3 separate regions of the Homo sapiens genome follow, and regions 2 and 3 are each linked to region 1. Evidence: fine-mapped expression QTL. A gene starts in region 1. Each other region holds a variant in brackets. All regions are shown on one strand. Distances are between the middles of the regions. Region 1 holds the start of DAG1 (dystroglycan 1). Region 2 overlaps SEMA3F (semaphorin 3F). Region 3 overlaps RHOA (ras homolog family member A).

What was found. PIP is the estimated chance that this variant, and not a neighbour inherited with it, causes the effect.
Region 2: its variant is the best candidate, but not a certain one, in a credible set for the expression of DAG1 in cerebellar hemisphere (GTEx, PIP 0.81).
Region 3: its variant is the best candidate, but not a certain one, in a credible set for the expression of DAG1 in blood mononuclear cells (TOPMed, PIP 0.74).

What each region holds. Positions count from the first base shown.
Region 1 is chr3:49,466,313-49,474,111 of GRCh38, reverse strand. It overlaps DAG1 (dystroglycan 1), which reads right to left and starts at 3,845. Exons shown (of 3, transcript NM_004393.6): 1 at 3,679-3,845. It also overlaps the pseudogene RNA5SP130. RefSeq lists a silencer at 3,427-4,166.
Region 2 is chr3:50,161,585-50,169,383 of GRCh38, reverse strand. All of the region lies in intron 2 of SEMA3F (semaphorin 3F), which reads right to left. Among named protein-coding and RNA genes, the nearest start is that of SEMA3F-AS1, 9.4 kb to the right of the region's middle. RefSeq lists enhancers at 1,654-1,948, 1,880-2,494 and a silencer at 1,654-1,948. The variant C/T (reference allele first, on the strand shown) is at 4,072.
Region 3 is chr3:49,363,144-49,370,942 of GRCh38, reverse strand. It overlaps RHOA (ras homolog family member A), which reads left to right. Exons shown (of 5, transcript NM_001664.4): 3 at 2,395-2,515. Among named protein-coding and RNA genes, the nearest start is that of GPX1, 8.7 kb to the right of the region's middle. The variant C/T (reference allele first, on the strand shown) is at 4,477.

The DNA of each region.
Region 1 (7,799 bases):
CTGCACTCCAGCTTCGGCAACAGAGCAAGACTCGGTCTCAAAAAATATATACATATATTAGCCAGGAGTGATGGCGTGCGCCTGTGGTCCTAGCTACTCAGGATGCTGAGGTGGGAGGATTGCTTGAGCCAGGGAGGCTGGTCGAGGCTGCAGTGAGCCAAGATCCCACCACTGCACTCCAGCCTGGATAACAGAGTGAGACTCTGTCTCAGAAGAAAAAAAAAAAAAGGCCAGGCGCAGTGGCTCACGCCTGTAATCTCAACACTTTGGGAGGCTGACGCGGGCGGATCACCTGAGATCAAGAGTTCAAGATTAGGCTGGCCAACATGGTGAAACCCCATCTCTACTAAAAATGCAAAAAATTAGCCTGGCGTGGTGGCAAGTGCCTGTGATCCCAGCTACTCGGGAGGCTGAGGCAGGAGAATTGCTTGAACCTGGGAGGCGGAGGTTGCAGTGAGCCAAGATCACGCCACTTTATTCCAGCCTAGGTGATGTGACAGAGCAAGACTCCGTCTCAAAAAAAAAAAAGGAAGAAAAGAAATGAAATATGCTCTCAACTGCCTCCACAAGGATGAACACACATTGTCTCTCACGGGTTAAGATGCCTGCTGTGCGCAAGAGGAAATGCAGTACCCCAGGTTCAAGTAGGAGATAAAGTTTTGTGTTTTTTTTGTGTTTTTTTTTTGTTTTGAGACGGAGTCTCGCTCTGTCGCCCAGGCCGGACTGCAGTGGCGCTATCTCAGCTCACTGCAAGCTCCGCCTCCCGGGTTCACGCCATTCTCCTGCCTCAGCCTCCAGGAGAATGAGTAGCTGGGACTACAGGCGCCCGCCACCCCACCTGGCTAATTTTTTGTATTTTTAGTAGAGACAGGGTTTCACCGTGTTAGCCAGGATGGTCTTGATCTCCTGACCTCGTGATCCACCCGCCTCAGCCTCCCAAAGTGCTGGGATTACGGGCGTGAGCCACCGCGCCTGGCCAGTTGTTTTGTTTTATTTTTTATTTTTTTTGAGACCGAGTTTTGCTCTTGTCACCCAGGCTTTCAGCTCACTGCAACCTCCGCCTCCCGGGTTCAAGCGATTCTCCTGTCTCAGCCTCCCGAGTAGCTGCGATTAAAGGCGCCCGCCACCATGCCTGGCTAATTTTTGTATTTTTTAGTAGAGACGGGGTTTCACCATGTCGGCCAGGCTGGTCCTGAACTCCTGACCTCAGGTAATCCACCTGCCTCAGAATCCCAAAGTGCTGGGATTACAGGCGTGAGCCACCACGCCCTGCCTGGAGATAAAGTTGTTTTTTGTTTTGTTTTTGAGACGGAGTCTCGATCTGTGGCCCAGGCTGGAGTGCAGTGGCTCTATCTCAACTCACTGCAAGCTCCGCCTCCCGGGTTCACGCCATTCTCCTGCCTCAGCCTCCTGAGTAGCTGGGACTACAGGTGCCCACCACCACGCCCGGCTAATTTTTTGTATTTTTAGTAGAGAGGGGGTTTCACCGTGTTAGCCAGGATGATCTCGATCTCCTGACCTCGTGATCCGCCCGCCTCGGCCTCCCAAACTGCTGGGATTACAGGTGGGAGCCACCATGCCCGGCGATAAAGTTTTTAATAATCAAATGCCAGGCCTCCTTTCCTATGCATCGACGGCAGTCTAAGTGGTCCCTAAGTGGTCCCTCCAAATCCCACCATCCTCAACACTAACCAGACACAAGCAACTCTGTAGGTCACTATACCAGGTAGTCAACAAGGAATTTAAATCCTTGGTTATGCTTGGTCTTCTGGCCCATGCATTCCAGAATGTAGCTCCTCCCCCATCATGGCAGGACATCCCCTCTGTACTACCTTTTCAGTCTCTCTTTTCTGATGGCTCCTTCTCCCTCCCCACCTCTCCTCTGTTAGCTGACTTAACTGCCAGAGGTCCTGACCCCCTCCCTCTTCCTGCCACTCCACCAGCAATATCTTTCTAAACACAGGTCTGGGTCACACCACTCTACTGATTAAAAGGCTCCCCAGACTCCTGCACCCCGCATACAAAGTTGGAACTCCTGAGCACAAGGCAGGCCCAGAGCTCGCACCTGCCAAGCTGGAGGACTCCCAAGCACTATTTTAGGTGCTCATGTACATGTGGTTCCCTGTGTCCAGGCCTTGATGTCCCCCACTAATTCCTGCTGGCCCTGAAAACCACAGCTCAGGAATTCCCTCTCTCCTCAGGCTACTATGTGAGCACGCTTAGCGGGCAGACACTATTAATCATGGGTTCCCTGGTCCCCACTGCCCCCTAAACTGAATTCCTTAAGGGCAGAAGCAGACTCTTTTACATGGGTCCCTAGGATCTACCACAGAATTTGGCAGGTAGTGAATCAAAATATTTGTTCAAATGAATAAATGCATTTTGCAAAATCAATTTTTAAGAACAGTGAGGATTTGCACTGTGCCTCTTTTAACAAAAGCACATGTCAGCACAAGCTTTTATATCCCATAGGGTCTTCACATGATGGATCCAACTCCCTACTGAAATCTGATTTCTCCAAAATACAGGACACAGGCCATGAGCTCTTCTTCCTTAGTTCACAGCAAAAAAAACCCACAAAAGTTCAACTAAACTTCTCCATACTCAAACTATGGATTTTTATGCCTCCAAAATGTAGTACGGTTGAATTCTTTTTTAGAACAGGAACATTCCAAAATAATGTCTCTGAACTTAACTAAGCATAGAACCTGATAAAACTGCAATACCCCATCTACACCAGACTTTGCAAAACACCTGAAAGCACATCCAGCTCTTTATCTGGAATTATGTCCTATAAACACCACCTTCCCTTCACGGAGTCTGGCTTCTATGCCAGGAGTCACTTCTACTCGCTTATTTAGGGAAGCAGCAGGCTAGAATCTTAAGTTAGACTCTGCGCTATGAAGGTGCTGTCCCAGGCTCTTGCCTCAACCAGTCAAAACTTCATCGTCACCATTAAAACTAATTCTGAAGCAACTCGATTTACAAAAATAAGAACTTTTCAAGTTATAGAGATTAAAGGATGCATTTTAAGTTACCAGTTGAGTTTGTAGGAAACTAACTTAGAATTTATGGCAAAAAGATTCCAAGCCGAGACGACATTTTCTGTGGAGACACTATCCAAATACACTCGCAGGTGAACCAGGTCTGCCAAATACAAAGTGAAAAGGTAGTAAGTAAACAAGCTTCCAAAGGAGCTCAAGTAAGGATGACGGAACCCACCAAGGCTCTGAGCAGCTCTGACAGAGCAGTGGCGGCAGCGGTGCCCTTCCCTGCCTCTAGCGGGGCTCGACTCCCCACAGTCGGAATCCGGCCCAACTGGGCCACAACCCCTATTGGAAGCCAGGGAGGCGGCCCGCAGGCGGCTCACGACCGCGGCCAAGGCGCAGGCTCCACGTTCCCGGGAGCGCGGGCCGAGCTAAGGCCTGGCCCATCGCCGCGGCGCGCGGCCCGGGCCTTGCAGCCGAACGCTCCGAGCCTTTGCCTGCGGGACCCAGAGCAAAGGGGCGGCTCCGCCCGGGCGGCACCGCCTCCTCACCCACAAGGACGTCCGCGGCCGTGTCCCCGCCCCGGGCCGAACAGCGAGCAGCAGCAGGTGTTCCGCGGAAGGCTCAGCCGGCAGCAGGGATGGGGGCCCAAGCAGCCAGGCACAGCGGATAGGGCGGGCGGTGCACTCACCCAGCGCCGGCGGGAGGACCGCGGCAGGTGTTCGCTCCTCCTGGCCCCAGGACGCCGCCACCGCCGCTCCCCGGGGATTCGGCGCGAAGCTGCCGCCGCCGCCACCGCCAAGCCTAAGAGGCGCGAGCGCCGCGCCGCAGCCTTCGCGCGAGCACGTACCGGGCGGTGAGAGGGCGCTGAGCGCAAGGGCGGGGCGCGCGGCCGGAGCCTAGCAACCGCCTGACACGCGAGTGTTGCAGCCAATCCAGCGGCCAGCTCCGCGCGGCGCCGACTGGCTGTCCGCGCGCCGCCGGCTTCTGCCTGCGTCGGCCGCTCCGCAGCGCGCCGCACCCGCGCGCAAGCCCCGCCCCGGCCAGCACCTCTCTGCTCATTGGCTAGCCACTCCCCCGCCCTAAAAGTCACGCCCCATTATGGAAGCCTCGCCCCCACGGCCAGGGAAGTCCGTCCCGGGACACACCCCGGCGGTCGGTCCCGGTCACTCGGAGCCTTCAGAACCAGTAGTGTGGGGGAGGGGCTCCCCGCCCAACTTCAGGCCTTTGGGCCTCTAAGACTAATCAAGGGACAGTCAGGACTGCGAACTGGCCCAGCAACTGGCCACCCGTCGACTGCGTTCAGCCCTCCTTATTTCCTTCGAATGCAAATCAAGGGGTATTTCTAAGCCATGAGAACAATCAGGAAGCGTTCTCTCAATTGCAAAGGATGAAAGCCTTGCTGCCCGGCCCTTACACGGATGGGAGACTGAGGCCAGGGACAGGAGGAGCGGGAAGCTAGCTCATCTCCTAGAGCCTCGCCCACAGCAGGCTGGGGAGTCGGAAAGCGCCTCAGGCCTAACCCTCGTCCCCTCCCCCTGCCTGGAACACTGGAATCCGACGCCTGCTCTCCTGCCCAAAATAGCTCTAACTCGCAGGCGCTGGTCACTCACTCCTAGTGGCCTGCATTCTTTTGGTGGGGGAAGAAATAAGAGAGGGGGGTTGCTGCCTGGAACATTCAAGGGGAGGGTCCTAAGGTAGCTCTAGCTCTCCCCAGGACTTAACCTGCAGCCCCCCACCCCAAAAGCCCCAGACTTCACAGTTACTGAAACTGACAGTTACCGGATGGGTCTGGGAATGAGACCCGTGGTGGGCTCTGCTTCTCATCCCCACACCATGCGCAGGATGGGTCCATTCCCTCCTTGGCCTGTGGCCAGGCTGGAATTCCAGGCCTGCACTCTTGACAGCAAGCACATTCTGAACACAGAACTGGCTGCCACCAGCCATGGTTTCCTCCCTGGATCCCGGAGAGCTCTGGGGCTCCCTGGCTTTCCCTCCCTCCTCAGGAGCGTCTGGGAGATGCAAGTTGCAGAGATAAGAAAGGAATGCCCCATCTCCCAAAAACATACCTTTTTGCAATTATCTATACTTCAGTGTCTCGGCTCCAAACCTCATTCACAGAGACAAGAAAAGGAAGGGGCTAGGTGCTGTGCTCCCGCCTGTAGTCCCAGCACTATGGGAGGCCGAGGCAGGTGGATGGATAGCTTGAGCTCAGGAGTTCAAGACCAGCCTGGGCAACGTGTCGAAACCCCGCCTCTGCAAAAAAAGTACCAAAAAAAAAAAATTTTGACCAGCCGCGGTGGCTCACACCTGTAATCCCAGCACTTTGGGAGGCCAAGGCGGGTGGATCACCTGAGGTCAGGAGTTTGAGACCAGCCTGACCAACAACGTGAAACCCCGTCTCTACTAAAAATACAAAAAATAGCCGGGCATGGTGGCAGACGCCTGTAGTCCCAGCTACTCGGGAGGCGGAGACAGGAGAATCACGTGAACCCAGGAGGCAGACGTTGCAGTGAGCCGAGATCATGCCACTGAACTCCACCTGGGCAACAGAACAAGACTCTGTCTCAAAAAATAAAAATTAAAAATAAAATTGGCCAAGCGGGGTGGCACATGACCTGTGCTCCCAGCTACCTGGGAGGCTGAGGTGGGAGGATTGCTTGAGACCAGGAGGTTGAGACTGCAGTGAGCGGGTGTTCACACCACTGCACTCCAGCCTATGCAATAGAGGGAGACCCTGTCTCCAAAAAAAAAAAAGGGGGGGCTAACCATGCAGAAAATTATTTATTTGGGTTTCTAAGCAAAATATATTCTATTCTCTCATTCACTCCTTTGGCTCTGAGAGTGCACCACCTACCCCACCACCGTGCACTGCTTTGCAGCCATACGTTCTGCTGCATATTTTAGTGTCTGACTATATAGTTTTACATCTCAGGTCTGTAATTCCAGCACTTTGGGAGGCCAAGGAGGGTGGATCTCTTGAGCCCATGATTCAAGACCAGTCTGGACTATATAGTGAGACAGCATCTCTACAAAAAAATTTTTTAAATTAGCCAGGTGCTTGAGCTTTGGAGATTAAAACTGCAGTGAGCCATGATCACACCACTGCACTCCAGCCTGGGCAACAGAATGAGACCCTGTCTCAAAAAAAAAGAAAGAGGCCAGGCGTGGTGGCTCACGCCTGTAATCCCAGCACTTCGGGAGGCCAAGGCGGGTGGATCACGAGGTCAGAAGATCGAGACAATCCTGGCTAACACGGTGAAACCCCGTCTCTACTAAAAATACAAAAAAAATTAGCCGGGCGTTGTGGCATATGCCTGTAATCCTAGCTACTCGGGAGGCTGAGACAGGAGAATTGCTTGAACCAGGGAGGCGGAGGTTGCAGTGAGCCGAGTTCACACCACTGCACTCCAGCCTGGGCAACAAGAGGGAAACTCTGTCCCCCCTCAAAAAAAAAAACGGCAGGAGGCTTGGCTGACCAGACCTGAACAAGCCACTTAGGAGGCCTAACCACCTCCCACCAGAACCCAACCAGCCCCCACTGGAGTCCATACCAAAGATGACACAGAAATAGCTGTCTTCATGGTCCCCTAGACTGGCTAGGGGCTGTAAAGTTAAGGCCTTGTTACTCTCTTTAGTTCTAAGAGTCAAAGCCTTTACCCTCAGTGGGAACTGCACAGCCTACTCTAGAGTTCAGCACAAGGTCCCCAGTAACTCACCTTCCAAACCCCAGCAGAGCCTAGGCCACTCCAGGCCAGGTTTGGTGCTCACAACCAGTTGGAGGGCAGAACCAAAAATGAGGTCTGGGCCAGGCTCAGTGGCTCATACCTGTAATCCCAGCACTTTGGGAAACTAAGGCAGCTGGATCGTTTGAGCTCAGAAGTTCAAGAGCTGTCCATGGCCATACCACCCTGAATGCACCCAAGCTCGTCTGATCTCAGAAGCTAAGCAGGGTTGGGCCTGGTTAGTACTTGGATGGGAGAAGTTTGAGACCAGACTGCGCAACATGTTAGCAAGACCCCCATCTCTACAAAAAATTAAAAAATTAGCAAGGCATATGGCACCCACCTGTGGTCCCAGATACTCAGGAGGCTGAGGTGGATCACTTGAGCCTGGGAGGTGGAGGTTGCAGTGAGCTGCAGTCATGCCACTGCACTCCAGCCAGGTGACAGAGTAAGATCCTGACTCAAGAAAAAATAAAAAGGCTGGGCGCGGTGGCTCATGCCTGTAATCCCAACACTTTGGGAGGCTGAGGTGGGTGGATCACGAGGTCAGGAGTTCCAGACCAGCCTGACCAATATGGTGAAATCCCTTCTCTACTAAAAATATGAAAATTAGCCAGGCGTGGTGGTACACACCTGTAATCCCAGCTACTCAGGAGGCTGAAGCAGGAGAATCACTTGAACCCAGGAGGCAGAGGTTGCAGTGAGCTAAGATTGCACCACTTCGCTCCAGCCTGGGCAACAGAGTGAGACTCCGTCTCAAAAAAAAAAAAAGAAAGAAAGAAAGAAAAAAAAAAATGAGGCCTGGGTTACTCCCAGGAGCAGCTACTCAAAGGACCCATGTGGTATGGAATGGGGAGGACTGATCAAGAGGCAAAGAATGAGGATCTTCGGGCCTGTCAGTCCCCAACTCTCTTGGGCCTTCAGCCCCCAGTGTTTCATCCACATAGACCCTCAACCTGAGGATTCAGGAAGATTATCTGATTAAGGTTTGTCTCCTCCACTGAAGTATGAGCCCTTGATGCTAGAGACCAACTTGCTTGGCCCCACATAGCAACCACCACCTAACAGCAAGTGGCAGATAGCAGAG
Region 2 (7,799 bases), 700 kb before region 1:
GGGGTCCCAGCCCAAAGCGGCCTGGCACAGGTCCAGAGGCAGGACCTTCTCAAGGCACACGGGGCTGGGTCCTGGGGGCCCCCGGTCCCTCATATCTGGGAAGCAGCTGGTGATACCTTACTTTAAAGGTGCGGGCAGGTGAGGACAGGCACTGAGGAGGCGTGTCCACAGCCCTCACCCGAAGACCCCAAGTGGGCAGCCCCTACCCCTTGCTGCTGGTCTCCAGGACATCAGGTCTGCGTGCAGTGAGGTGTGGGCTGCCGCAAAAAGAGGAGTCTTGGAGCAGAGGTGGGCAGCCCGCCCCCTTGGTTATAGCCCCACAAAGCAGCAGGCCCTGACTGACAGCGTCACCTCCCCCAGCAGTGATGGGGACTGGGGATGATAGACAGATCCCTGCAGCCTAGCTCAGACCTCTGACCTCTAGTGAGCCAGTGCAGCCCTAATCCCTGAGCTGAAGAGAGATGGGACTGGGGGACAAGGGGAGGCACCAGCCTGGGTCTTTGTCAGTGTTTCACCCACCGGAAAGACAGACCTCCTGACCTTCTGAGGAGGGAAACTGAGGTAGCCAAGGCTATAGTAGCAGTGGCGGCAAGAGGCATGGCAGGGCCCAGGTGGTCCCTACCGGATACCCCCACAGGATCCAGGAAGGGGTGGCCCCGGCCCTTTTATCACTCCCCCAAAGCTGTGAGGAGCCCCAGAGGAAGGCCTGGGGACTGGGCTGGCCCCCTGGCTCTCAGCCTAATCCTCTTTTAATGAGCGGCCAGCCGGAAGGCCTCAGCCCATGGCCACAGACCTACAACCCCGGGAACCCCAGCCAAGCTAAGCGGGGGGGCAGGGAGGCCCAGATGCCTTTGTACGTACCTTCCTCCTGCTTGGCACACCCACTTACACCCCAACGCCACCCTGATCAGGCCAACCCAGGGCCCAGTATGTGCAGAGACACACCTGAGTGACGCCTGCCTTGGGCTCCCACAGACCCACTCTTGGGCACTTACCATTTGTTCAAGCCCAGGTCCCACATGGGGCTGGGCAGGGGAGACTATCACTGCTGATCTGGGGTAGCTCCTCCAGTTCCCCCTTTTCCCCCTATGCTCTGGATGGGAACCCTAGAAGCCAGACCCCAGCTGCACCCTCCCTGGGGAGAGGTTCCAGGTTCCTCTGACCCTAAGCCCCTGGAGATCTGCCCCCGCATAGCATCTCTAGCCAGGCCTTCCAGATTGGAGACCCAGAGGGCCTCCCTAGGAGCCATCCACACCAACCCCCGCTTCCCCCCAGGTAGGTGAGCCAGGTTGGTGCCAACAAAACCAATTACAGCCACTCTCACCCAATTAGCAACTAATTATGGTCTAGTAGTCCATTCAACATAATTAACATGTAAATGACTCCGCGTGTTTTTATTCAATAACCGCTCTGATTGAATTTAATTTAAATGTCTGAACTGGGGACCCAGTTACCGTATTTCACCACCTAGAGCTGCCACTCTAGGAAATGTGGTGGGAAATGTTGGCTCCTCCAGAGCAGAGGAACCGAAGGCCAGAGGCCAAGGGGACAGGCACCACTGGCTCTGGTAAGGTGGAGATGGTTATGGTCTCTGTATCCCTGACACATCTATCCCAGGGGTGCAGGGAATTGGTGAGGTCAGAAGAGCCCCAGTGGGACCCTCAAGATGGGAAATCCCCTGCAACGAGGGGCCCCTTTGCAAGGGCTACTGTAAACATCCCAGCTGTTCAGTAAACACCGTACAGGGGTAAAGAGCCCAGCTGGGCCAAAACGCCACTGTACACTTCCCTCCCATTTCAGTGACTAAAGGCTGGGGGCAGGGGGCAGGGGGCTGGGGCCAGCAGGTCCAGGCATGCTGTTCCCACGCCCGTTCCGCCCCAGTGCTCACCTACTCCGCCCAGGACAGGATAGGCTGAGGGCACAGCTCAGCCTCAAACCAGGAAAAGCCAGAAGTGACGGAGCAGCAGGATCACTCCCTGACTCGCCAGCCGGGAACCAGGGGATCCATGCCTCATCCCCGAAGGACACCCAATGACTTCGGACCTTCTGTCCCAGCAGATGGGGTCTCTCCGGCCTCGGCACCTCCACTGACCCCTGCCTTCCCCATGGTCCATGCACCTGACCATCCTAGGCCTGGGCTGGTAGTTCCAGAGGCCTAGACGTCCCACTTGGAACTTAACAGTGTGCATGGTTGCCTGTGAGAACACATTTGGGCATTCACCAGCTGGGCAAGTCAGGGCTCCGGCTCAGCTTTGGAAGGACACTGTGGTCAAGAGACCTGGTCCTGAGCAGGGGGTGGGAGAAGATGACCAGACAAGCAGATCACACAGGAATGTGCCCCAAGAAGTATGAAGGGGATGGAAAGAGGGGATTGTTCTGAAGGGGAGGGCTGCACTGATTCATTTCTCAGGTGGGGAGAGTGAAAAGGCCATTCAGTGAGTGCCTCCAGTTTCAGAGGCCCCCGGGGGACCCACCTCCTCCTCCCACATTCCAGACCTGGCCCGGAAACCCCTCACTCCTTCCTCCACCACCTCCTCCTCCCCATGACTGCAAAAGACAACAAACTCTCCATGGCTCATTTACTCTGATAAATCACCCAGACAGACAGGCCAAGATGGGACCAACAGGCTGGTGGGTGTCAAAACCCTCCCCCTCCCCTGGGCCCAGCCCCCATCTCTGCGGCCTTCCTCGGATTCCTGCGGTCCCTGCAGCCCCTTCACAACACCCACCCAGAGATTCCCGGGATGTTCCAGACAGTCTTAGCCCCTCCCCAACATTCTGATGGAGAAACCGAGGCACAGGGCAGACAGGTGCATGCTTGGGGTCAGCCTTGGAGGATGCAGTGAGGCTGGGTTAGGACCTCAGCAGGACTCAGCAGGTAGCCAGTCAAGGGCAGGCAGTGAGCACTCCGCACAGGCCCCAGGCCCAGCCAGGAAGGCGCTGATAAAAATGGCAATACAGGCAGCCCTGGGAGAGGCCCCCTGGAGTGCTAGCCACTCAGCCTTGGAGCTGTAGGAGCCCAAAGGGCTCCCAAATTCTAGCCGCTCTGCCAATTGTAGTGTATGACCCTTAGAAGGCAACCGTGCTGGCTGAACAGCAGACACACGAGGCAGTGGACTCTGGCCGGGGGAAATGAGGGCATCAGCACCGAGCCCCAAGTGGGAAGGAACAAGGCTCTTGGCTGGGTACAGAGACGTCCGAGGAAAGAGCATGTCCGGGTAGGAAGCCAAGAGGGGTGGCAAAGGGAGGGGTGGAGGCAAGGGGGAGTAGGGGGAGGAAGGAAGGAAGAAGAGTGGGGGAAGGGGGATCCGGAGCTGAGGCTTCCTGATCCCTGGAGGGGCCGGTTGCTTTGGGTCTGTCTTTGCCCTGCAGAGATGCACCAGATAGCCAGTGCTCCCCTCGGCCCAGTGAGAGTGCCAGAAGTCAGCCCAGCCCGTCAGCCCGATGAGCCCCACTCCCTCCCCAACAGGCTAGCCCCCCAATCCTAGGCCAGCAGCCACTGCCCAGACCCCATTCGTTGCTGGGTCAGGACCAGTGGTCAGGGACTGGAGCCCAGGAGGCCTCCACCCTCTCCCTGGGGCTGCCCAGCAGGCTGGGTGGGGGGCTGTAGGCCTGCCAAGCTCTGGCACCCACGTGAGCTAGGCTTTGGATTCAGACCATAGCCTTCTGGCATCCAGGCCTCTGGCAAAGGCCCTCTTGCTATTTCTAAGAAAAATGCAGCAGGAATCCTCTCTGCTTCTCCAAAGCTCCCAGGGCTTCTTGAGGCGGGGCTCAGATTCCCAGGATAGCACCAGGCCAAGCCAGGCAAACATGCTTTCTGCCCAGCCCTGCAGATGCCTGAGTGAGCAGCCCAGGTCTGGTCACCCCTAGGACACACGGCAGGAGCTGGAGCAGCATTCACAGAAGGAGTTATTGCAGCCAACTGTGCGTCCCAACCAGGCCTTGGAGCCAGTCTCTAGGGAGCTACTTCCAAGGCATCACTCCCGCCAAATGCATCCGTATCACTGGAATTTTTCCATAATACATATTTAGTACCTCTGCCATGAGGAAAAAGAGCTTAAAAACCAGAAA[C/T]AGAAAGTAGAACTCTACATCCTTGTCCCAAAAGCAAGACTGCATCTAGCATCTGTCCTCTTCCCCAGGTGCTGCACCACATGCACCCTCCCTGTGCTCCAGCTCTTCCCTCCCCTACAACCTCCCCTCCCCTGCTCAAGATGCAGCCTCCTCCATGAAGCCTGCCCAGATACCCATGGTAGGAATTTTCCTCCTCCTGACCCTACTCCACCCACCCCACAGGACTCAGGGTCCTTCCTGGAGTCCTTTCCAAATACCATCTCCCTTACCAAAAGTTAGAATTCTGGAGGAAGGGGTGAGGCAGTCTGGGACTCCTTGGGGCATGCCCCTGGACCTGCCCTCACCTGCACACCAGCCTCAGGATCGCTCCTGGTGACTGAGATTTCTTCCACAGTGACCATACTCACACAGTTAATCCTCCTGACAACACAACGAGGCCAGTATTGTTCTTACTCCCATTTTCCAGAAAAGGCAGTGGGAACACAGAATGATGTTCACCAAGCAAGATCCACCCATGGCCAGGATGCAAGCAAGACAGTCTGAGCCCTCATGATGCTGCTTCCACAGGGCCACTGCCATTCCCACCTTACACAGGAGAAACCAGGGCTCAGAGAGGCTAAGCCACTTGGCTGAACTCACACAGCTAACACTGGTAGAACTGGGTTTTGCCTTTGGGACCAGCTAGCTCAGCCACCACCATCACCACTTCTGCATTACACCAAATTTAAGCACCCCACTCTCCTGAGTGAGGAGATGGAGGTCTCCCAGGAGTCAAGGACCAGGTACCCATGGCCCTAAAGCCACCTTCTGAGCTATTACCACCTCTGGAGGAGTCAAGGGGCCGGAGGTGCATACACACAGGTGCAGACAGCCAAGAGCCCACTCTGAGGCTCACTGTCTCCCAAGCTGCAGGGTGAAAGATGCCTTTATGGGCTGGTGAGATTTTTATCTTGGCGGTTTCTCTTTAAATTCTTTACGATTACGAAGCAGTGGGGGCTGCCAAGGAACATGATTTACTCCTTGAGCATGCACCAGCTCCTCACTTAGTGCCAAGGGAAGCTGGAGCCAGGGAAGGAGGGGCGGGCATCATGCCAGGGAACCAGAGACAAGGCCTGTGCTGCGGAGGCCCAGACAGTGGAGGTCCCATCTGAAGCTCCACTTGACCTGGAAGGCCACAGCTGAAAGCCCCAGCCCCTGGCCTGGCTGACCCAGGCTGGGCGTCAGGCAGGTTCTCCAGCAAGCACAAGGACCCTGTCTCCATTCTCTCCAAAGACCAATTCCTAGCCAGTTGGGGGATGTGCAGCTTCCAGGACCTCCCAACTCCAAAGCGGCCACTTCCAAGTCTCTCAGGAGTAAGGCAGCTCCCATTTCCAGAAAACTGAAACTCCAGATCTGGCCTCAAGGGATCTGGGCTCAAGTTCATGCTTTGGGTCTTCCTTCCTCCCTCATCCTGGCGTATCCTGGAACACCTACCCTCCCTGGCTTGTGAGCTCCAACCCCCACTGTAGCTGCCAGAGCCACCTGACCCTTGCCCAGCTCCCTGGTGCCACACTGGCCTCAAAGCTCCTGGGCCTCCTCCCCCTCCTCCCCCACCAAAGCCCCATGCCTTGCTCTGGCTGGCCAAGGAGCCCCTGGGGGGCAAGAGCATGTCCTCTAGCTCTCCAGCCCCACCCCTACTCCTGCACCAGGCCTGAGGGCTAAGGCCCCATCAAGGCTTGCTAGAGGCACCTCAACTCACATCAACTCCTGAGGGGAAGTCAACGGGCTGTGACCCTTCCTAACCTCTAACCTCATCATCTCCAAACCTGGCAACCTTGGTCCTCTGATGCCACATGCAAATGATGTGAGCGGTGGCACTGTTCTGGGCTATTGGCCTGGAGGGCTCAAACTCCAGGCTGCTCTGGAACAGGAGCCCTTTCCTCTCTTAGGCCCTGATGTTCCCATCTCTGACATGAGAGGCCTTCCTAGGGACCCTGCTCAGTGGAAGGGCCAGAGTGATGGAGGGCCGGATTTATAGCCTGGAAATAAGCAAACCCCAATTCCGTTGCTTCGGCAGACAGAGGGCATGGGGAGCCTGCCCAGTGCGACCCCAGCCCTTTCTTTGGGAAACGAGGCTAGGAAGCCTAAACCAGCACTGCAGAATGCTGGAATCTTCCTTGTTCCTAGCTCATGTGAAGGGTCTGTGCCTCCAGCACCACCACCATCCCTGCCCTCCACTCTCAGTCCTGGGACAGCCTCAGGCATCAGGCGGATGCAGGCTCCATCTCAGTCCTGCTCCTGAGTGACCTGGGAAGCCGCTCAGCCCCCGTAAGCCTCCTTCCTCACAGGAAACCTAGGCAGACCCTCTTTAGGTCTTGGAGGGACCATTGCTTGGTTATCCTCATGGGCTCCTACTACTATTTCGATTATGTTCATCTTTCCTGACCTCCCCTGGCAGGGTGACCTTCTGCTCCCTCTCCCTACTTCTGCCTCAGCTTCCCTAGCAGCACAACTGTCTCATGTCATCACAGGGTCCTTCTACCCCACCAAACATCTCTTGGCCCCAATCCCTGGCCAAACCCAGCCCAGGCAGCAGCAGTGTGTCGTGGGGTAGCTTCCTGGGAAAAAGTAAACACTCCCCAGGCTGAACAAAGGGCCTGGCAGGGCCCTCACACCTCCCTGCTGCTGCCACGGAGGGAGGTGGTGCCCCAGAGCCTGGGTCATCTCAAGGTGGGGGAAGGAAGAGCTTTTTCTCTGAGATTTGGCAGTGATTCTGCAGTGTAGGGGACTCCAGGCCCAGGCATGGATGGGTGAAGGAAGGAGGGTCTGTCCAGGCTTCCAGCCCAGGCTCCACTCTCTCAAGAGCAAGGAATGAACAAACACCTCACCTGCTCCTGGAAATCTCCATTTGACCCTCACTTCTGCCTGATTTTGGCTGTGCTGCTGAAGCCCAGAAGCTGGGCCATAGGAGCCCCCCTAATCTGAGGGAACCCTGGGCTGCTTGACCCTCACACCCTTCTGGCTCTAGACCTGGCTGGGGTGCCCAGGCGGATGGGCGGGCAGCAAACCCAAGCCTGGCCCAGTTCCTGCCTTTGTTCCTTTATCTACCCTGGGCAGTGTGGCCCCTTATGCCAGCACCTCTAGCTTGGAGGGTCCAGCCCTACCCAGGCAGGAACCGGCACCTCCCCACTACAGCAGGACCCAGGGCAGGGCAGGGCAGGGAGTGCCCAGCCTGAGCCCCTGAGGCCTGGGGTGTCAACTGCTGTGTCCATCCAAGGCACAGATGAAAAAACTATGACATGGAGCCACAGTGACCAGCAGTGCTTCTGAGAGTAACCTTCTCTGTGCCACCCACGTGTACTCTGGGAGGAAGATGGTGGGAGCCCAGTTTCTTGAAGTGTTGGTCTCCATTCTCACTCCACACACACTTGGTGGGCGCCTGCTCCTCACTGAGGGCCACTTCATGTGTGCATAACCAGGCTGAGACCACCCAGTGTAGGGGGATACACAGGGCCTGGTACACAGCAGGTGCTGGGCTCCCAGATGGCCCTGACCAACTGGATATCCATTGCTTTTTCCACCAGCTTGACTGTGAGCACCCTATCTTGTTCACCACAGAGTCCCCAGCACTCAGCACGGGGCCTGTCATACAGTAGTAAGTGAAGTCTAAGCACAAAATTAGGACACGAGACCAGGTCGGAACAGGGAAGGTCATTCAGGGCAGGGGAACCTGCCTGTGCAAAGGCACA
Region 3 (7,799 bases), 100 kb after region 1:
CATCCTGGGGCAAAAGTTCGGGGGTGGAAGAGCCATCAATTTTAAGGAAGAAATCATTTAGAAACTGAAATTTGGGCTGTGAAGGTGCTAAGAGAAGAAAGATGTGTTCCAAGTATTGGAGGGAGACCTCTTGGGCCTCAAAGGGCCTCTGTACAGAGGATGTTTAACATGGAGTCTGGTGATAAGAATGGGGTAGCAGAGCTGGGTGCAGTGCTGGGCAGTGTTGAATGGGACTTGTATTCAGAGCCCAGGCATCAGTTTACCCTTCTACCACAGGAGGGTGAGGATGTACCCGGATGTGAAAGGAGTACTCTCTCACCTTACGTGATGCATTATTTCAGACATTTCTTGAGTAGTAAAGGCACAGCCAAAAGGGCTTTCCTGTCATCTCAGGCCTTGCCTAACAGCCAGCATGGTGTCTTTTCCTACCTACCAACTCAAAATACAGATTTGTTTCCATGGTTTCCACATTATAGCAGAAAATTTACTTAGTCTTGTATCTTCCTCTCTCGCCTGTATGCCTGGTAGGATGTTATTTAAAATTTGATTTCTTCCCTCCTGTCTGCTTTCTTTCCTAGTAGAATGTTATTTATAATTAAACACTTTTATAAGCTACAGAGTTATTTTTGACTTGACATTTTGAATTATGCCACTTGGTTCAGTTCTAGTATCTGTTTTGTTTTTTTGTTTTTTTCCTAATTGAGTCAAGGTCTCACTGCCTAGGCTGCAGTGCAGTGGCACAATCTCTGCTTACTGCAACCTCCGCCTCCCGGGCTCAAGCAGTCCTCCCACCTCAGTCTCCCAAGTAGCTGGGACTACAGGCGTGCACCACCACAGTCAGCTAATTTTTTTTTTTTTTTAAATGGAGTTTCGCTCTTGTTGGCCAGGCTGGAGTGCAGTGGTGCAATCTCAGCTCATTGCAACCTCCACTCATTGCAACCTCCGCCTCCTGGGTTCAAGCGATTCTCCTGCCTCAGCCTCCTGAGTAGCTGGGATTACAGGCATGCTTCACCACGCCCAGCTAATTTTGTATTTTCAGTAGAGATGGGGTTTCTCCACATTTGTCAGGCTAGTCTCGAACTTCCGACTTCAGGTGATCCGCCCGCCTTGGCCTCCCAAAGTGCTGGGATTACAGGCGTGAGCCACCGCACCCAGCCCACACTCAGCTAAGTTTTATTTTATTTATTTTTTTTTTTTTTAGAGATGGAGGCTCGCTTTGTCGCCCATGCTGGAGTGCTGGAGTGCAGTGGCACGATCTTGGCTCACTGCAACCTTTGCCTCTCGAGTTCAAGCAATTCACCTGCCTTAGCCTCTCCAGTAGCTGGGACTACAGGCGCACGCTGCCGTGCCTGGCTAATTTCTTTCGTATTTTAGTAGGGACGGGGTTTCACCATGTTGCCCAGGCTGGTCTCGAACTCCTGAGCTCAGGCAGTCAGCCCGCCTCAGCCTCCCAAAGTGCTAGGATTACAGGCATGAGCCACCGCGCCTGGCCACACTCAGCTAATTTTTAAGGTGTTTTTGTAGAGGTGGGTTCTCAGATTTTCAATTTTGAGAAATTTCAACCTAAAATAATTTAAATATACTCTCATTTGAGCTTGATGCTCATAAAAGTGAATACTCGGCCGGGTGTGGTGGCTCATGCCTGTAATCCCAGCACTTTGGGAGGCCGAGGCAGGCGGATCACGAGGTCAGGAGATCAAGACCATCCTGGCTAACATGGTGAAACCCCGTCTCTACTAAAAGTACGAAAAATTAGCCAAGCGTGGTGGCGGGCGCCTGTAGTCCCAGCTGCTCAGGAGGCTGAGGCAGGAGAATGGCATGAACCCGGGGGCAGAGCTTGCAGTGAGCCAAGATCTTGCCACTGAACTCCAGTCTGAGCAACAGAGTAAGACTCCGTCTCAACAAAAAAAAAAAAAAAAAAAAAAAAAAAAAAAAAGGCCAGGCGCGGTGGGTCACGCCTGCAATCCCAACACTTTGGGAGGCCGAGGCGGACGGATCATGAGGTCAGGAGATCCAGACCATCCTGGCTAACACAGTGAAACCCCGTCTCTACTAAAAATACAAAAAATTAGCCGGGTGTGATGGCGGGCACCTGTAGTCCCAGCTACTTGGGAGGCCAAGGCAGGAGAATGGTGTGAACCCGGGAGACGGAGCTTGCAGGGAGCAGAGATCGCGCCACTGCACTCTAGCCTGGGCGACAGAGCAAGACTACATCTCAAAAAAAAAAAAAAAAAAGAAAAAAGAAAAAATGTAAATACTCCTGTGTTTTACTGTTTTAGACCGTCTGCCATTTCAATGGTCTGCCATTTCAATGTACTATGGTAAGTGTCACTTTTTCTAAAAGTGGGTGGGGGGATTAACCTTGCACTCTTGTGGTTGTTTTTCCCATTACAGGTAGAGTTGGCTTTGTGGGACACAGCTGGGCAGGAAGATTATGATCGCCTGAGGCCCCTCTCCTACCCAGATACCGATGTTATACTGATGTGTTTTTCCATCGACAGCCCTGATAGTTTAGGTGAGTGGCCCTGCACCCTGATATTTGTCACTGCCTGTGTAGCTAGTTGGCATCTGGTTTCTGGGCATCAAGTGGCTGAAAAGCAGACATGAACTTCAGAGAAGCAATCATCGTCAGTGGCCGGAGTCCTGGAGTTTGGGATTGTAGAGCGTGGGCCTTGGGTCCCTTTCAGCCTAGGTCTCCCATGGGTACTGTATTTAAAATGTATCCACCTAGGCAGGGCACGGTGCCTGACACCTATAATCCCTGCGCTTTGGGAGGTCCAGACGGGTGGATCACCTGAGGGTCAGGAGTTCAAGACCAGCCTGGCCAACATGGTGAAACCCCGTCTTTACTAAAAGTACAAAAAAATTAGCCAGGCATGGTGGTGCACGCCTGTAGTCCCAGGTACTTGGGAGGCTGAGGCAGGAGAATCGTTTGAACCTGGTAGGTGGAGATTGCAGTGAGCCGAGATTATGGCACTGCATTCCAGACTGAGCAACAGAGCAAGACTCTATCTCAAAAATAATAATTATTATTATTATTACTAAATAATATTAAATGTTATTTAAAAATCTAACTGCCTTGTAAACTAGATGAATTCCAGATACAAAGATGAGTAAACTAAGGCTGGTGCGGCGGCTGACACCTGTAATCCTAGCACTTTGGGAGGCCGAGGCTGGCAGATCACCTGAGGTCAGGAGTTTGAGACCAGCCTAGGCAACATGGTGAACCCCTTGTCTCTACTAAAATACAAAAATTAGCTGGGTGTGGTGGCGTGCACTTGTAATCCCAGCTATTCCAGGGGCTGAGGCAGGAGAATCACTTGAGCCTGGGAAGCAGAAGTTGCAGTGAGCCAAGATCATGCCACTGTACTGCAGACTCCATCTCCCAAAAAAAAAGATGAGCAAACTAGATGAGTTCCAAATGTAAAGCCATCTCTTTTGGGGAAAGACTTTCTTTTTTTTGGTTGCCCTGTCTTAGCCTTTTTCTGAAGTGTCTTAGCTGATAGAAGCTTGAATGTGATCATTTCATTAGCCTAAACACAGCCACATAATTCAGAAGTCAGTAAGTCAGTATTCTTTTTTTTTTTTTTTTTTTTTTTTGAGAGGGAGTCTTGCTCTGTCTCCCAGGCTGGATTGCAGCAGCTTGATCTCAGCTCACTGCAAGCTCTGCCTCCTGGGTTGATGCCATTCTCCTGCCTCAGCCACCCAAGTAGCTGGGACTACAGGTGGCCACCACCACGCCCGGCTAATTTTTTGTATTTTTTAGTAGAGATGGGATTTCACCACGTTAGCCAGGATGATCTTGATCTCCTGACCTCGTGATCCGCCTGCCTCGGCCTCCCAAAGTGCTGGGATTACAGGCGTGAGCCACTGCGCCTGGCCCAGAAGTCAGTATTCTTTAGAAAAAGACTGAAGAATGCTAACCTGACATTCTGTGAAACCAGGCTTGAAAAAACTTGCTTTAGGTTTGTGCTGAAGATGATGAGGTATCTATTAATAAACTTGTGCTGCAGCCCTCCCTGTCATGACAGGGCAGCAGGTGGGTCAAGGATGTTGTCGTCATTACCACAAACAGCCTTTGAGGGTCTGCTTGTGGCCTCGGGTTGCCTGGATAGTTAGTGTTAGAGTGATTGTGTTGTTATGGTTGTCCCTACCTTAATGATGATAACTGGGGTTGCTCCAAGATATTGAGCCACTTGTTTAAGGTCATGCTGGCCCAAGGAGCTGAGCTAAGATTGAGTCCTCTGTGCAGTATGTCCCAGGACAGAGAAAGAGCACGTATTCCATGCCGTTGGTTCACTTAGATCATTTTCAGCAGTTATGATTGATTGATTGATTTAGAGGCGGGGTCTCGCTCTGTTGCCCAGGCTGGAGTTGAGTGGCACAATCTTGGCTCACTGCAACCTCCGCCTTCCAGGTTCAAGCAAATCTCCTGTCTCAGCCTCCCAAGTAGCTTGGACTACAGGCATACGCCCC[C/T]ACGCCTGGGTGATTTTTGTATTTTTAGTAGAGACCGGGTTTCTCCGTGTTGGCCAGGCTTCTCTCAAACTTCTGACCTCTGGTGATCCACTCACCTTGGCCTCCCAAAGTGCTGGGATTACAGGTGTGAGCCACCACACCCAGCCTAGTTTTGGTTTTCAAACTAATATGACTTCCTTTTGTGAAGCTGCTGGAAGGCCCTGGAGGCTGGGCAGAGCTTTAGGCCACAGAGAAAATTTGAGCTAGTTGACACTCTCCTATCAGATACACACATAAATAACTTCACCTAGATCCTATTGGAATGAGAAGGACTGTGTGCCTTTGCCCTCGTTATCTAGTGTATAATTCTTGAGGGAAAAAACTGCCTCCAGAGCAAAACATTTTGTCTCTTCAGTCTCACTTTTTTCTTTTTGAGACAGGGTCTCGCTTTCTTGCCCAGTCTTGAGTGCAGTTGCAGATTCAGTTTACTGCTGCCTCGACCTCCTGGGCTCAAACAATCCTCCCATCTCAGTCCCCACCCAGTAGTTGGTACTACAGGCACACACTGCTGCGCTTGGTTAATTTTTATATTTTTTAGGCCGGGCATGGTGGCTCACGCCTGTAATCCCAGCACTTCGGGAGGCTGAGGTAGGCGGATCACCTGAGGTCAGGAGTTCGAGACCAGCCTGGCCAACATGGTGAAATCCTGTCGCTACTAAAAATACAAAACTTAGCCAAGTATGGTGGCATGTACCTGTAATCCCAGCTACTCAGGAGGCTGAGGCAGGAGAATTGCTTGAACCTGGGAGGCAGAGGTTGCAGTGAGCCGAGATCGCATCACTGCACTCCAGCCTAGGTGACAGAGTGAGACTCTTGTCTCAAAAAAAAAAAAAAAAAAAGTTTGAAAATTTATTCACCAAAAGTGGCGACAGTCAATTTATTCAAATTCTATGTACCTCAAACTCCAGGAAGGGGGTAGACTATTGGTATAATTTCACATATTCAGGAAATAACTACAGCACCTACTAACAGAACATCTATTCTAGGCCAGGCACTGTGGCTCACACCTGTAATCCCACCACTTTGGGAGGCCAAGGTGGGTGGATCCTGAGGTCAGGAGTTCAAGACCAGCCTGTCCAACATGGTGAATCCCTGTCTCTACTAAAAATACAAAAAAATCATCCGGGCGTGGTGGCGAGTGCCTGTAATCCCAGCTACTCGGGAGGCTGAGGCAGGAGAATTGCTTGAACCCGGGAGGCAGAGGTTGTAGTGAGCTGAGATTGCGCCACTGCGCTCCAGCCTGGGCGACAGAGCAAGAGTCCATCTAAAAAAAAAAAAAAAAAACTTCTGTTCTAGATGAGGGAAGACAGAATAGGCTCCCCTCAATGCCCCCAAAAAAGTAAATCAGAAAATAACAACAGTAAACCCAGTAACAGTAAATATTACAAATAACATTTGTAGAGGTGGGTCATGGTTGTATGCTGTTTTGTTTTATTTATTTTTATTTTTGTTTTTTTGAGACAGACTTTTGCTCTTGTCACGCAGGCTGGAGTGCAATGGTGCGATCTCAGCTCACTGCACTCCGCCTCCCGGGTTCAAGCACTTCTTCTGCCTCAGCCTCCCAAGTAGCTGGGATTACAGGCATGCACCACCATGCCTGACTAATTTTTGTATTATTAGTAGAGACAGGGTTTCAACATGTTGGCCAGACTGGTCTCAAACTCCTGATCCACCTGCCTCGGCCTCCCAAAGTGCTGAGATTACAGGCCTGATGAGCCACTGCACCTGGTCTATTTATTTTTATTTATTTATTTATTTATTTATTTTGAGACGGAGTCTCGCTCTGTCGCCCAGGCTGGAGGGCAGTGGCACGATCTTGGCTCACTGCAACCTCCACCTCCCTGGTTCAAGGAATTTCCCTGCCTCAGCCTCCCTAGTAGCTGGGATTACAGGTGTGCACCACCATGCCCAGTTAATTTTTTTGTTTTGTTTTGTTGTTTTTGAGACGGAGTTTCGCTCTTGTTGCCCAGGCTGGAGTGCAATGGCACGATCTCGGCTCACTGCAACTTCCGCCTCCCGGGTTCAAGCGATTCTCCAGCCTCAGCCTCTCAAGTAGCTGGGATTGCAGGCATGTGCCACCACGCCCAGCTAATTTTGTATTTTTAGTAGAGACGGGGTTTCTCCATGTTGGTTATGCTGGTCTCCCAACTCCCGACCTGAGGTGATCCACCCGCCCCGGCCTTCACAGTGCTGGGATTATAGGCATGAACCACTGCGCCTGGCAATCTTTTTGTATTTTTAATAGAGATGGGGTTTCACCATGTTGGCCAGACTGGTCTCGAACTCCTGACCTAACGCGATCCACCTGCCTCAGCCTCTCAAAGTTTTGGGATTATAGACGTGAGCCACTGCGCCCAGCCTATTTATTTGTTTTTAAGAGATGAAGTCTCACTTTGTCACCCTGGCTGGAGTGCAGTAGTAGCGTGATCATAGCTCACTGCTACCTTGAATCCTGGACTCCAGTGATCCTCCCACCTCAGCCTCTCAAGTAGGTGGGAATGCAGGCACATGTACCACTGTAAACTGCTAAGTTTTTGTATGTTTTTGTGGAGATGGGGTTTTTGACTTTTTTGATACAGAGTCTCACTCTGTTGCCCAGGCTGGAGTGAGTGTAGTATTGCGATCTCGACTCATCACAACCTCCACCTCCTGGGTTCAAGTGTTTCTTCTGCCTCAGCCTCCCAAGTAGCTGGGACTATAGGTGCACACCACTGCGCCCGGCTAATTTTAGTAATTTTAGTAGAGATGAGGTTTCGCCATGTTGGCCAGGCTGGTCTCGAACTCCTGACCTCTGGTGATCCACCCACCTAAGCCTCCCAAAGTGCTGGGATTACAGGCACGAGCCACCACGCTGTCTGGAGATGGGGTTTAGCCATGTTGCATAGGCTGTTCTTGAGCTCCTAGGCCCAAGCTGTCTACTTGCCTTAGCCTCTCAAAAGTGCTGGAATTACAAGTATGAGTCACCACGCCCAGCCTCTTTTGGTTATTTTCAAAAGTCACTTTTTTTTATTTGAGACGGAGTCTTGCTCTGTCGCCCAGGAGTGCAGTGGCGCGATCTCAGCTCATGGCAAGCTCTGCCTCCCGGGTTCACACCATTCTCCTGCCTCAGCCTCCTGAATAGCTGGGACTACAGGTGCCCACCACTACACCCGGCTAATTTTTTTTGTATTTTTAGTAGAGACGGGGTTTCACTGTGTTAGCCAGGATGGTCTCGATCTCCTGACCTCATGATCCGCCCACCTTGGCCTCCCAAAGTGCTGGGATTACAGGCATGAGCCACCGCT